3 separate regions of the Homo sapiens genome follow, and all the other regions are linked to region 3. Evidence: fine-mapped expression QTL. A gene starts in region 3. Each other region holds a variant in brackets. All regions are shown on one strand. Distances are between the middles of the regions.

Region 1 (4,152 bases), 72 kb before region 3:
CAGAGACTCCTCTGGTACCAGGGTCCCCTGAATCTCCGGAGTCCCCCAAGTCCATTGAGTCCACTGGGCCCGAAGAGGGAAACAGAGACTCCTCTGGTACGAAGGTCCCCCAAGTCCCTGGAGTCCCCTGAGTCCACTGGGCCCTCGACACCCTTGGGTCACTTGTCCACCCTCACACCATCGCTGGCCCAGGGAATGGGGGTTTGGATCGGCCTTGGTGACTGTGGGCCTCTGCCTGAAACCCTGTGAGTGTGGGTGGGGTGGGCTGGGTCCTGAGAGAGCTGGGAGCAGCGGAGTGAAGGGGGCTGGGGTGGGGCTGGTGACAGTGGAGTCCCTGTGGGGGGCAGGGCTGGTGGACAGTAGAGTCCCTGTAGGGGCTGGTGACAGTGGACTCTGTGGGGCCAGGGTGGGGCTGGTGGACGGTGTAGTTCCTGAGAGACCGAGCCGGAAGGTGAGGGACTGGAAGCTTGCACACGTCCCTGCGGCCTTCCCCTCGGGTGCGAGGCCTGCCATCCTGAGCTCCCCCACCCTACCCCGTGCCCGCCCTGAGGGCGGGACCCAGGCCAGTTCACACAGCATGGCGAGGTAAGGGCTCAGGATGGAAGGCAGGAGGAAAGTTGGGCCTGCTGCACCCATGGGTATTGCGGCAGGGAAGGCGAGGAGGAGCCGAGGTGGGTGCTGGGAGCTGTGGGGCTGGCTGTGCGTGTTGGGCCTAACTCGGGCTGAGCTGAGGTTACTGAGCCCTCAGGAGGGTGCTGTGGGAAAAGAAAGAGGCAGAGAAGGTGTCTTTGGACCACTTAGGGGACGGGGAGGGAACCCCACGGCAACTGTGAAGGTCTGGGGCACAGCCAGGGAGGGTCCCAGGTTGACAGGGACAGGCGGGGTGGGGGTGCAACATGGAGGCCTGGGGCTGAGCCTCCGAGAAGTGATGGGCAGGATGAGGGGGCCAGAGGGGATCACGCAACAAGGGGTGCACCTTGGTGGTCTGGGTGTCTCCAGAGAAGCTGGTTGTCAGGACTCAAGAGGCGGACAGGGAGGGGCTGGGGTTAGGGAAGAGTGTGTGGCAGGGGGAGGAAGGGAGCCTGCTTGCCGGGTCACCTGGCATTGGGAGCTGTCCCCTGCCTGCTGCGCCCCGCCTGCCATTGTTGGAGTTCTCCAGTCTGGGCTGGTCTGGATGAGGAACTGGCGGGGCTGCTGCCGGCCTGGACTCAGGACCCTCACCCTCCAGCCCGCACCCTCGACTCCCCACCAGCCAGACCCTCTGTCCTGGTGTGGACAGCACCCACATCCTGGCTCCACCCTTGTTTCTTGCCCTTTGACCTACAGCCTCAGGACGTGCAGGAGGGAGGTACGTAGGCACTTGTGGGTCCGGCCTCCTGACCGACCGTCCATCCACCACCAGGCTTCTGGATGTTCACCCATGTGGGAGAGACGGGTGTCGGGGAAGGGACCACAGCTTCCTTTCAGAAGACCCGGGAAGGGCAGTGCCGTGTGCCAGCCTCCCAGTTGGCACCTTCCTTTCACCTTAGTCGTCTTCGAGGCGATGTTTCCTCGGGACAAGTCATTTTCATGAATCTGCTGTAAAACGTCTCCCAAACTCCAAGTGTTTCCCAAACTGAGTGAAAATCGCTGCAGAATGTGGTTTCCAGCAGAGCTTTTCCCCTCTCCTTCCTTCACCTCTGCCTGGGTTACAGGGTGCGGGTTCCAGGAGTCTGCCTAGAAGGCAAAAAACAGGCTTTGCTTAGAATCCCCTAAATTGCTCATAAAACACAGTGTTTGACGTTTATGTGTAGACATGATCCTTATGTGGGTTAAGCTGAGGCCCCTGCCCCAGTGACACAGAGGCCTCAAACGGCACAGTGCACCTTCTGTCCGAAGCAGCCGGCGAGGCGGCCCGCGAACCTCTGACGTGCTCCATTGCAATGAGGATGAACGAGCCTCAGGCGGAGGGTCAGCCTGGAACCCCTGCCCCGTGAACACCAGCCAGCTTCATGCTGAGGACCCCTCAGTCCAACCCAGAGGCCCATGCTGAGGTCCCGGCATGGGGGACTGTGGGGTGCAGCCGCCGCTTGGAG[C/T]GGAGGTGAATGGGACCCCACACGTTTCCTCCTCCTTCTCTGGATGCCTGTAATCATCACAGTACTCAAAAAAGGAAGAAGAAAAAGGTCCTTGAAACTTGCTGGAGTTGCAGTTCCGTTTTTTTGTTTGTTTGGTTGGTTGGTTGGTTTTTTTTTTTTTTGGAGACAGAGTCTTGCTCTTGTCGCCCAGGCTGGAGTGCAGTGGCGTGATCTCGGCTCACTGTAACCTCCACCTCCTGGGTTCAAGGGATTTTCCTGCCTCAGCCTCCCAAATAGCTGGGACTACAGGAGCTCGCCACCATGTCTGGCTATTTTTTTTCTATATTTGGTAGAGGCGGGGTTTCACCGTGTTGGCCAGGCTGGTCTCGAACTCCTGACCTCAGGCGATCCGCCTGCCTTGGCCTCCCAAAGTGCTGGGATTACAGGCTTGAGCCACTGCGCCCGGCCCCATTTTCTTTACATTTGTGACTTACAGTCATCAGCTGAAGGAAAGACAGTGGCTTGGCTAGGGCCTGCCCACTGCTGGCCGAGGCTGGCCGGGTCACCCAGGTGCCTGCCTCTCCTGCTCTGGAGCCGGGCACTGCCTGAGGGCCTGCAGCACCAGTCAGGGCCCCGGGGGATCCCTCCAGGGTCTCAGTTCTGACTAGCGAGTACCTCGATTCATGAGTATGTTTTTTAATGTAAGGTTTTAACGTAAGGTTTAAAAAGGCAGCCGCCCCGTTTCCTCCCCACTGGTCTCGCCTTCAGCAGTGATTTGTGGTGACTGTGACGTTCTCTTCGGTGGGCTGCCTGTGGATCGCCAAGTATGTGCTCCTGCTGCTTCTACCTGATGTCTCCCCATCTTGGGCTTTGAGGGGGGCTCATCCGGGGCATTCATATTTTCTGCCCGAGTTCGCTCCTGACCCAGGGCAGGTGGAAGCCAGCAGGTGAGGACCAGGGTGTCAGCCAGAAACTCGGAAGTGGCACAGAGGCAGCATCCGATAGCCCCTTTGTCAGAGGCGACCAGGGCCTTGAGTGAGCTGGGATGGACTTCTCTTATCCTGACATCCTGGAAGGGGGTGCAGCCTGCCTGTCTGTGTCCCAGTTGAGTTGGCAACATTTTTTGTCTTTCCTCATGATGCACGAAGTAGTGGTATCTCTGAGAGCCAATGGCAGCCTAGCTGCCGTGGAGAATGCTGGGGGGTGGGTGAGAGTTGGGGCACAGAGGACTCATGGGGCAGAGGCTGTGGTCCAGTCCTTGTGGGGGTGACTCCAGGGATGGCAGGTGGGTGGTGTGGCCAAGGAGGAGGGAGGTCAAGGCACTGGTGTTGGGGCAGGGAGAAGGGACCGCAGTGCCCATGTGTTTGAGGGAGGGGAGATGATGGTGTGGGAGTGTAGAGAGGGCGGGGGCCCAGCCCACAGCATCCATGCCCTGGGGATTGGGTGCCACCGGTCAAGGGCTCCACGGGGCTGGCTCTGGGGGAGGGAGAGCGGGCGCCATGTTGTGTGTGTGGTGCGTGTGGCGCGTGGGTGAGGGTATGGCCGGCTGCGTAAGTTTGTGGAAGCGTTCGGAATGCTCAGGAGATAAAAACAGCAGAGGGCTGCACCCCCCCACCCTCCCACCCCAGCTTTTCTCCAGGAGGACGCTCCGTCGTGGCCTGGGAGGACGTGGAAGGAGGGACCCCGGATGCAGGGCAGGTTCGTCTTGTGTGTTGAGAACGTGCTCTCCAGGGATCTGTGTTAATACAGGTAGCCCAAGCACAGTGTCCAATGAGGGAAGGAACATTTGAAACAGAAGAGATGACTTATTTTGTTGGACAAAAAAGGAATATGGTGGACATTAATTCTTAGAAGAGGTTTTATTTGAAACAAGTCACAAAAATAATCAAACAGCAGGTTGACTTTGGAGTTCAGCTCACAAAAGTTAAGCTTACAGAGCAAATAAAATAAGCTGAAGAAAAAGATAAGATGACTGGGCGCAGTGGCTCACGCCTGTAATCCCAGCACTTTGGGAGGCCGAGGCGGGTAGATCACGAGGTCAGGAGTTTGAGACCATCCTGGCTAACACGGTGAAATCCAGTCTCTACTAAAAATACAA
Region 2 (4,152 bases), 120 kb before region 3:
TCCAGGTCCCTCTGATTGCCTTTTACTCTAAGTTTTTCCGTGGGTTTTAAAGTCGGAGCCTGGCCTACGTAGACGCACGGGGTTTTGCGTCTCCCAGGAGCGGGCTCTCATTGGCAGTGCCACGTGCGCCTTGCGTGAAGTCCACGTGCTCAGCCTGACTGAGGCGGGACTTCCTCCGTGAGACTGTTGAGTGGCAGCCGCAGGGTCTTGACGCTGTCTCTTTCTCTCTCTTGTCCAGTTTTCCCGAGCACCCCTGAGCAGCCTGGCCTGCCATGTCCGGGAGAAGACAGTGAGTACTGGGGTTTCCTACGCCGGTCTCGCATGTTACGGGGTTGAACTGTTGATCCGTTGTGCCACGGAGGTGGCAGTGGTGCCGTTTTCGGAGGTTCACCCTCGTGGAGCGTCAGGGCAGGAGCAGCCGTGGTGACCGCAGGTGGGGTTTTCACTGCAGCTGCTGCCTGTGCGTGTTCTGGCTGACAGCACCACATGGCGGGGGACTCGCTTGGCTGGTTGGTAGCATGAGAAGTCCAGGGGTGCCCTGCCGTCTCCCTAGGAGGGAGGGGCCAGGTGGGAGGCTGGACACTGCTCCTTTGTGGCTGCCTCAGCTCACGACCACCCCTAGGCCAGTCGTCTGCTCCTCCTGGTCCCTGCTGGCCCCTGAGCTGGTGTGGGGGCTCCGTTCATCCCACACTGGCTCCATTGTTGGGAGAGGAAGGAGAGTGAGTCCCGGGGGCTGTGGCTTCAGAGGGAAGCTTCTGACCTCACTTCCTACTGCATCCCGGAGACTGTTGGGCCCTGAGCAGGTGGCTACGCTGCTCTCGGGCCGCGCATCCCATGGCTGTGCTTGGTGGGGTTCCACCCCCACTCTCCAGACCCCACACGGCCTCCAGCATCCGTGCCATGCCTTGTTCGTTGTGTGGGCAGGAGCTCCTGGACCGAGGCCGCTGCCTGTCCAGCGCAGGGCACGTGGCTCAGTGCCCTTCAGGCAGGGCTTCCCCCACCCCTGCTGCCAGGGCACACACCTCGCTGGCCTCAGGCTGGATGCTGGGTGTTGGCAGTGCCCTGTGTTGGGCGGGAACTGGGGGTGGGAGCAGATTCAGGCCAAGAGGGTGAGTGGGCAGTTGGGGCGAGAGTCTTGGCTTCCAGTGAGAAGTGGGGCTGAATAGAGGTTTGGCAGTGCTTAGCATAGGGGGCGAGAGTCTCGGCTTCCAGCGAGAAGTGGGGCTGAATAGAGGTTTGGCAGCGCTTAGCGTAGGGGAGGCCCCAGGAGCCATGGGATTTCCATGATCTGCCCGGGGAGAGGGCGGCGTGGCATCCCGGTTCCAGGCCCTCAGCCAACCGGGGTCCCTGCACCGTGGCCGGCAAGGCCGAGGAGCCATCCGGAGGTGGGCCCTGGCAGGAATGGAGCGGGTGGTCTGGGGCTGGACCTGCCGGCAGGAGGAGATGGGGTATGTCCGTGGCAGGCGGACACCACCAGGTGGTTTTGGCAGCGCAGGGCGAGTGTGAGGAGGCAGGGGGCGGGGAGGCTTTGGAGGCAGGTGGCCAGACGGTGGGCGTCAGGGCCCTGATCACCTACGCAGCTGCCCTGGTGGTGACCTTTCCCGGGACCCTCCCTCTGGGTGCCCACGCCTCACGGACCCTGGAGCACGCACCCTGGGAGGGCACGGTTCACTGCGTTTTTATAGATACATAAACACATAAATAGGACAGATACTCCCTGTGGGTGAGACGATGGTTGTCCCCTCCACAGCGCCCTGCAGCCTCATGCTGCTGCTTTATAGGAGGGGACCCACGGGCCGTGTTTATTTGCCACCTGGGTGATTTTTTGACTTGGTGACAGGACTGTGCTCCTCTGTCCCATGTGTGCTGAGACTGTGCACTCCCAGAGGTATCCACATGCGGCCAGTGTAGCCCCTGGGCGCGGGGGAAGCCCACCGTATTTCTCCGACATGTCTGCCTCTTGTCTCAACCCTGCCTGGGGGCCTGGGGTCTGCTCTTTCTGTCTACGACCTCGGCATTGCCTCTCTGCCCGTGTGGACAACCTGCCGGCCTTGCGTAGGGAAGGGAGGCCCGCATTTGCTCGGCCACTGCAGTGGAGGAAGGGGAGGTTGGGGGGTCACAGGATGTCCAGAGGCCTGAGCTCTGAAGGGGAGTGTGTCATGGGGGTGGCAGCCGAGTCACCGTGGGGAATGCGGAGAATGTGGCCAAGCCCCGAGGAAGGACCTCCTGGGACAC[G/T]TGAGTAGGTCCTTGAGATGTTTACCAGGGGTGGCTCCACGGCTTCGGGGACCACTCAGCCTGGTTGGGGACATTCCGCCAGAGCCTCTGGGGCAGCCTTTGCCGAGGAGGTCAGAGGCGGGTGCTGGGGGTGGGGAGCCCTGCCCTGCCCTGTGTGCTGATGTCCACCCGGACGTGGGTTGGGTTTCATGGCGCTAGTGTCAGGAGTGTGTGAGAACACACTGCCCACTCGGGGTCCCAGGCCACCAGGGCTTAGGGGGCTGGCGCTCTCCCTGATGTCCTGTGCTTTCTTTCACTCTGACTGTGGTGCTCATCTCAGACAGGACACCCTGCTCTGGTTGCCAGTGGCCGCCGCCTGGGGCTCTGTGGTTTTAGCGCCTGTGGGGGTGTTCACAGGTGTTTTTGACCTCAGGCAGCACTGCCCAGGCTGAGGGTCAGTGAGAAGGGTCGGACTGGGAGGTGTGTACAGTGGATGGAGCACGCCAGAGGCAGACGAGGGCAGGACTGCGGCTGTACCGTGGGCCTGGTTCAGACGGCTGGACGTGCCTGTCTCACCGTCAGCAGAGGACCTTCTGGCACATTCTATGTGTGTCTATATGAGTGAATTGGTTTTATAGATTTTTAAAAAAATTCTAAAGTATACTTACAACTATCATCTCTATGTAGTTACAAACCCAAAATATATTCAAAAAGGGAACCCCGTGCCCGTCATCGGTCACTCCCTGTTCTGCCCCAGCCCCACCTCCGCTCAGCCTCTGTCTCTGTGGCCCTGCGGATTCTGGACGTTTGGTGTCCGTGGAATCCTGCATGTTTGTCCTTTTGCCTCTAGTGGCTTTCACCCGCCTGACCTTTCCAAGGTTCATCCATGATGGGGCATTCTTGGCGCTGCAGATCTTTTTTCTATTCTGGTAAAATGCACATAACATCTATTTTTGCCATCTTAACTTTTTTTTTTTTTTTTTTGGCAGAGGGGGGACGGAGTTTTGTTCTGTCACCCAGGCTGGAGTGCATGGTACAATCTTGGCTTACTACTACTCTGCCTCTCAGGCTCAAGCGGTCCTCATGCCTCAGCCTCCCGAGTAGCTGGGATTACAGGTGTGTGTCACCACACTTGGCCGAGTTTTTCTTTTTGTAGAGTTGGGGTTTTACCATGTTGCCCAGGCTAGTCTCGAACTCCTGGGCTCAAGTGACCTACCCATCTTGGCCTCCCAAAGTGCTGGGATTATAGATGTGAGCCACCGAGCCTGTCCCCATCTTAGCCATTAAAATTTAAAGGTTCAATTCACTGGTATTCGATATTCGCATTGCTGTCCAGTCATCATCACCGCCCATCTCCAGAACTCTCTTCATCTTCCCAGACTCAGCCTCTGTCTCCATGAAACACTCACTCCCCATTCTGCCTCCCCCAGCCCCCATCACCCACCCGCCGCTTTCTGTTTCTGTGACTTTGGTGACTCTAGGGGCCTCCTGTGAGTGGAATCGCACAGGATCTGTCCTTTTGTGACAGCTTATTTCACTCAGCACCATGTCCTCAAGGCGCAGCCATGCGTAGCCTGTGTCACAGTCTCCTTCCTTCTCAAGACTGAACCGCAGGCTGCTGTATGGATGTATTTTGTTTACCCATTTCTGTCAGTGGACACACGGGTGACTTCCACAGTTTAGCTGTCGTGAATGATGCTGCTGTGAGCACGGGTGCACAGTGACCTCTGGAGACCCTGCCTTCAGTTCTGGGTGTAGACCCGGAAGTGAGATTGCTGGATCATTGATCATTCTATTTTTATTCATTTATTTTTGAGATAGCGTCTCGCTCTGTCGCTTAGGCTGGAGTTCAGTGGCACGATCTCGGCTCACTGCAGCCTCCATCTCCTGGGCTCAAGCGATTCTCCTGTCTCAGCCTCCCAAGTAGCTGGGACTAAA
Region 3 (4,152 bases):
CCTGGGAGCCTCGAGCTGAGGCCCAGCCCCTCCTGCCCTGCATTTTCCTGCCAAGCAGCACCTGAGACTCTGAAGCCGATGCCTATACAGGCAGAAACCTGCCAATTCCAGCTTGAACGACTGGAGGGTCCTGAGGATGGGGGTCCCTGGGGTGCCATCATGGGCAGGGTGCATCTGTTTGGGTATGCTGCCCCCCAGCTGGCGGGGCACCGGGGACAGGCACAGCCACACTGGGGGCATTTCTGGTCTTGGAAGCCTTCTTGGCTCTTCCGGAGGGAAGGCGGCTGCTGGGTGCCCTGTGATCCACCCGCGAGCTGGGCTGTTCGGCTTGGTCTGCAGGGGCTGGGGGGCTGCATTTCTTTTCACCAGCTGCACCCACCCGGCCCCATCCTGGCTGGCACCGAAGGGAGCAGCGCGCCGTGACATCCTCCCCTCAAGCCTGGTGAATGGTGGTTCCATGAGGCTGGAGTCAGTGGGTGCCTGTTGTGACAGCTGGATTTCAGTGTTGGTACAGGAGCACACACCTAAGGGGCGGGCCAGTGAATGAGTGTGCGAGGGTGGGCTAGAGAACGAGCAAGGGAATGAGAGAGAGTGGGTTAGAGAGTGAGTGAGCCAGTGAATGAGTGAGTGAGCAGGAGTGGGTTAGAGAGCGAGGGAGTGAGTGAATGAGTGGGCTAAAGAGGGCCGGGCGCGGTGGCTCACGCCTGTAATCCCAGCACTTTGGGAGGCCGAGGAGGGCAGATGATCTGAGGTCAGCAGTTCGGGAGCAGCCTGGTCAACATGGTGAAACCCTGCCTCTACTAAAAATACAAAAACAAAATTAGCCAGGCGTGGTGGCGGGCGCCTGTACTCCCAGCTACTCAGAAGGCTGAGGCGGGAGAATGGTGTGAACCTGGGAGGTGGAGCTTGCAGTGAGCCGAGATCGTGCCACTGCACTTCAGCCTGGGAGACAGAGCGAGTCTCAAAACAAAAACAAAAAACAAAATTAGCTGGGCATGGTGGTGCATGCCTGTAGTCCCGGCTACTCAGGAGACTGAGGCAGGAGAATAGCTTGAATCGGAGTCAGAGGTTGCAGTGAGCCGAGATCGCGCCACTGCACTCCAGCCTGGGCAACAGAGCAAGACTCCATCTCAAAAAAAAAGTGGGCTAGAGAGTGAGTGAGTGAATGAGTGAATGGGAGTGGGTTAGCGAGGGAGTGAGAGGGTGAATGGGAGTGGGTTAGAGAGGGAGTGAGAGGGTGAATGGGAGTGGGTTAGAGAGTGAGGGAGTAAGCGAGTGAATGTCTCTTGGTGCTGCTGTAACAGAATACCTGAGCGAGCCTGGGTAATTTCTAGGGAGCAGAGTTCTTTCCCAGCTGTGGAGGTTGGGAGTCCAGGGTCATGGTGCCAGCAGGCTTGGTGTCTGGTGAGGCCTGATCTCTGCTTCCAAGATGGCGCCCAAACACTGCATTCCCCGGAGGAGAGAGGGGAGGAAGGCCACGTGTCCACATGGCAGAAGGCAGAGAGGAATCCATGCCCAAGCTGTCTTGACAGCTACAGGAGTTTGTCTGTGAGGGCGGGGCTCCCATCAGGTTCCACCTCTCTACACTGTTGCTCTGGGGAATGAGTTTCTCACTGTGAATCTGGGGGGCACATTCAGACCCTATTGTGGGTGAGTGGGAGAGCATGGCTGTGTCACTGGGACAAGTGGCCATGAGTCGGGGGAACTGAGGGGTTTTCAGTGTCCTCACCCGTATGTGTTGTGGCACCTGTGCCAGGCACCAGCGTTCTGCCCTCCCCGGCACAGGCGCATCACCGAGTCCCAGGCCCGCCTGCTGGGCATTTTCCTGCCAAGCAGCACCTGAGATTCTGAAGTCGATGCCTGGATAGGCAGAAATGGGCCGGCAGGAGGCTCCTGACAGACGGGTCTGTGCAGTGCCAGCGCAGGCAGGGTGCTGTGGCCAGGTCCTACACCTTTATGGTCAGGGTTCCAAGACGTCATGAGACGGCTTGTTCAGCCAGTTAGTTGTCGGTGCCCCTCTGAACAAGGACCCCCCCAAGGAAGGGGGTGGCCTCGCATGGGTGGCTGGGGATCCTGCTCCGTCCCACATGTGGCCAGCATGGCCGACACTGGCATTTCTCAGCTCGACAACAATTTTTCTGACTTTGGATATTTTCTAGATTTTGTGTTGTAAGAAAAAACACTTGGCAGTCAAATACTAGGCAGATTGAAATGCTGACTTTCTCACTGTTTCATTTTGTGATTGAAGTGCGTGCAAAACACTCAATCTGGTAGGGATGATGCCCGCGCGGAGCTGACCCTTCTCCTATTGTTTTTCCAAGCTGGAGAAGAAGCAGGCGCTCCCTCCATTCCAGCCACAGATCACAGACGACTACGGTCTGGACAACTTTGACACACAGTTCACCAGCGAGCCCGTGCAGCTGACCCCAGACGATGAGTGAGTCCCACTGGGTGCGGGTCCCTGGAGCACCCCTCGGGCAGCCCCATGGCAGGCCGGCACCTTGGGCAGCTGGTGACCCAGCCTGCCCTTGAGTCCCACCCGCCTGGTGTCATCTCTCCAGTGGGCGTTGGGGGAGGATTCTTATGCGAACGTGACTCCGCTTCCCCCAAGGGAATGAACACACGGTCACCCCCCTCCCCCCTGCCACCTTTGCCCACAGGGATGCCATAAAGAGGATCGACCAGTCAGAGTTCGAAGGCTTTGAGTATATCAACCCATTATTGCTGTCCACCGAGGAGTCGGTGTGAGGCCGCGTGCGTCTCTGTCGTGGACACGCGTGATTGACCCTTTAACTGTATCCTTAACCACCGCATATGCATGCCAGGCTGGGCACGGCTCCGAGGGCGGCCAGGGACAGACGCTTGCGCCGAGACCGCAGAGGGAAGCGTCAGCGGGCGCTGCTGGGAGCAGAACAGTCCCTCACACCTGGGCCCGGGCAGGCCAGCTTCGTGCTGGAGGAACTTGCTGCTGTGCCTGCGTCGCGGCGGATCCGCGGGGACCCTGCCGAGGGGGCTGTCATGCGGTTTCCAAGGTGCACATTTTCCACGGAAACAGAACTCGATGCACTGACCTGCTCCGCCAGGAAAGTGAGCGTGTAGCGTCCTGAGGAATAAAATGTTCCGATGATGTGGAAGCTCCTCTGATGCCTTTTTTCCGTGAGTGGCGCCTGCCCCACATCTCAGACGCAACCCACACGTAGGGGGGCAGCTTAGGAGCCAGCGGGACACAGGTGGGGGCGGGAGTTGAAGTACCTGTGGGGACACACCGCAATCAAGAATTGTTTCCTAAAAACCCCGGTAAGTTCCTGTTGTTCTTCCTGCAGAGTGTGTCCCAGCCGCTGTGGTCTAGGGTGAAGTGACACCTTAAGCAGATGGCAGCTGGGCCAGCCAGCTCACTGGACCGATGGGGGAAATTGGATCATAGAGATTCTAAAACGTGGCCCACCAAAGCACAGTAGACCAAAAAAGAGAAAAAACTGAACACTAAATCTGCACAAATCATTTCTGACCACACTAAGCAGTGCCTGCACGATGCCTCGTGCGACGCATTTGATTTTTGGAAGATATTCTTATCTGTCACACAGCACTGAGAGTTAGGGAAAACTAAAAGATGTGCATGTGACGGACCCCAGCCTTAAAGTTGAACGTGATGACCCTACAAACACCCAGAAACACAGGCACTCTTCCCAGCGGCGCGGACCTCCTGCTCCCGGGAACACACCCGCGCTCTCCGTCCACCCACCCCTCAGGTGAAGGCACAGCTGTCCAGAGCTGAGGCTTCCTAGAGGCAGGGCTGCCAGCTGCCAGGTGTCAGGTGTGGCAGAGCCGTCTTCTGAGCTCCCTGGGAGAGGGGGTCGCGCCACCTCATGCCTCTGAGTGAGGCCTGGTGCACAGGTGTGGAAATTGCCACGCAGCCCTCTTGGCCAGGCGCAGAGACCCCAGGCCTCCATGACTCAGGGGCCGCTCCACCCCATTGTGCGGCTGGTGGCTTGGGGAAGAGAGACGTAAAACCCCAAGTTAGGAGGTCTGTGCCGCGCCTTGCCTTGCCTCAAGGTCATCCCCAGCAGGTGAGCGTGGCCCACCCTACACACTCAGGTTTCTCAGGGTGCCACTCCGTGCCTGGCGCTCAGCACGACATGGTGGATTCACACC

Direction of the effects. Positions count from the first base shown, and alleles are read on the strand shown. Sizes are in standard deviations (SD) of each study's normalised expression. Not every link is listed here.
For the expression in thyroid of the gene that starts at base 1,614 in region 3, allele T in region 2 goes with a higher level than allele G (moderate effect, 0.65 SD a copy in GTEx).

Evidence for each region.
Region 1: its variant is fine-mapped to the expression of PRKCZ-AS1 in whole blood (TOPMed, PIP 0.98).
Region 2: its variant is fine-mapped to the expression of PRKCZ-AS1 in thyroid (GTEx, PIP above 0.99).

The regions. Positions count from the first base shown.
Region 1 is chr1:2,110,470-2,114,621 of GRCh38, forward strand. All of the region lies in intron 4 of PRKCZ (protein kinase C zeta), which reads left to right. Among named protein-coding and RNA genes, the nearest start is that of PRKCZ, 62 kb to the left of the region's middle. RefSeq lists an enhancer at 2,029-2,078. The variant C/T (reference allele first, on the strand shown) is at 2,076.
Region 2 is chr1:2,059,303-2,063,454 of GRCh38, forward strand. PRKCZ (protein kinase C zeta) reads left to right here. Exons shown (of 18, transcript NM_002744.6): 4 at 239-289. Among named protein-coding and RNA genes, the nearest start is that of PRKCZ, 11 kb to the left of the region's middle. RefSeq lists an enhancer at 3,927-4,096. The variant G/T (reference allele first, on the strand shown) is at 2,236.
Region 3 is chr1:2,182,262-2,186,413 of GRCh38, forward strand. It overlaps PRKCZ-AS1 (PRKCZ antisense RNA 1), which reads right to left and starts at 1,614. Exons shown (of 2, transcript NR_146290.1): 1 at 1,310-1,614; 2 at 1-480. It overlaps PRKCZ (protein kinase C zeta), which reads left to right. Exons shown (of 18, transcript NM_002744.6): 17 at 2,322-2,437; 18 at 2,661-3,134. The coding sequence ends at 2,748. It also overlaps a transcript of FAAP20 not described here.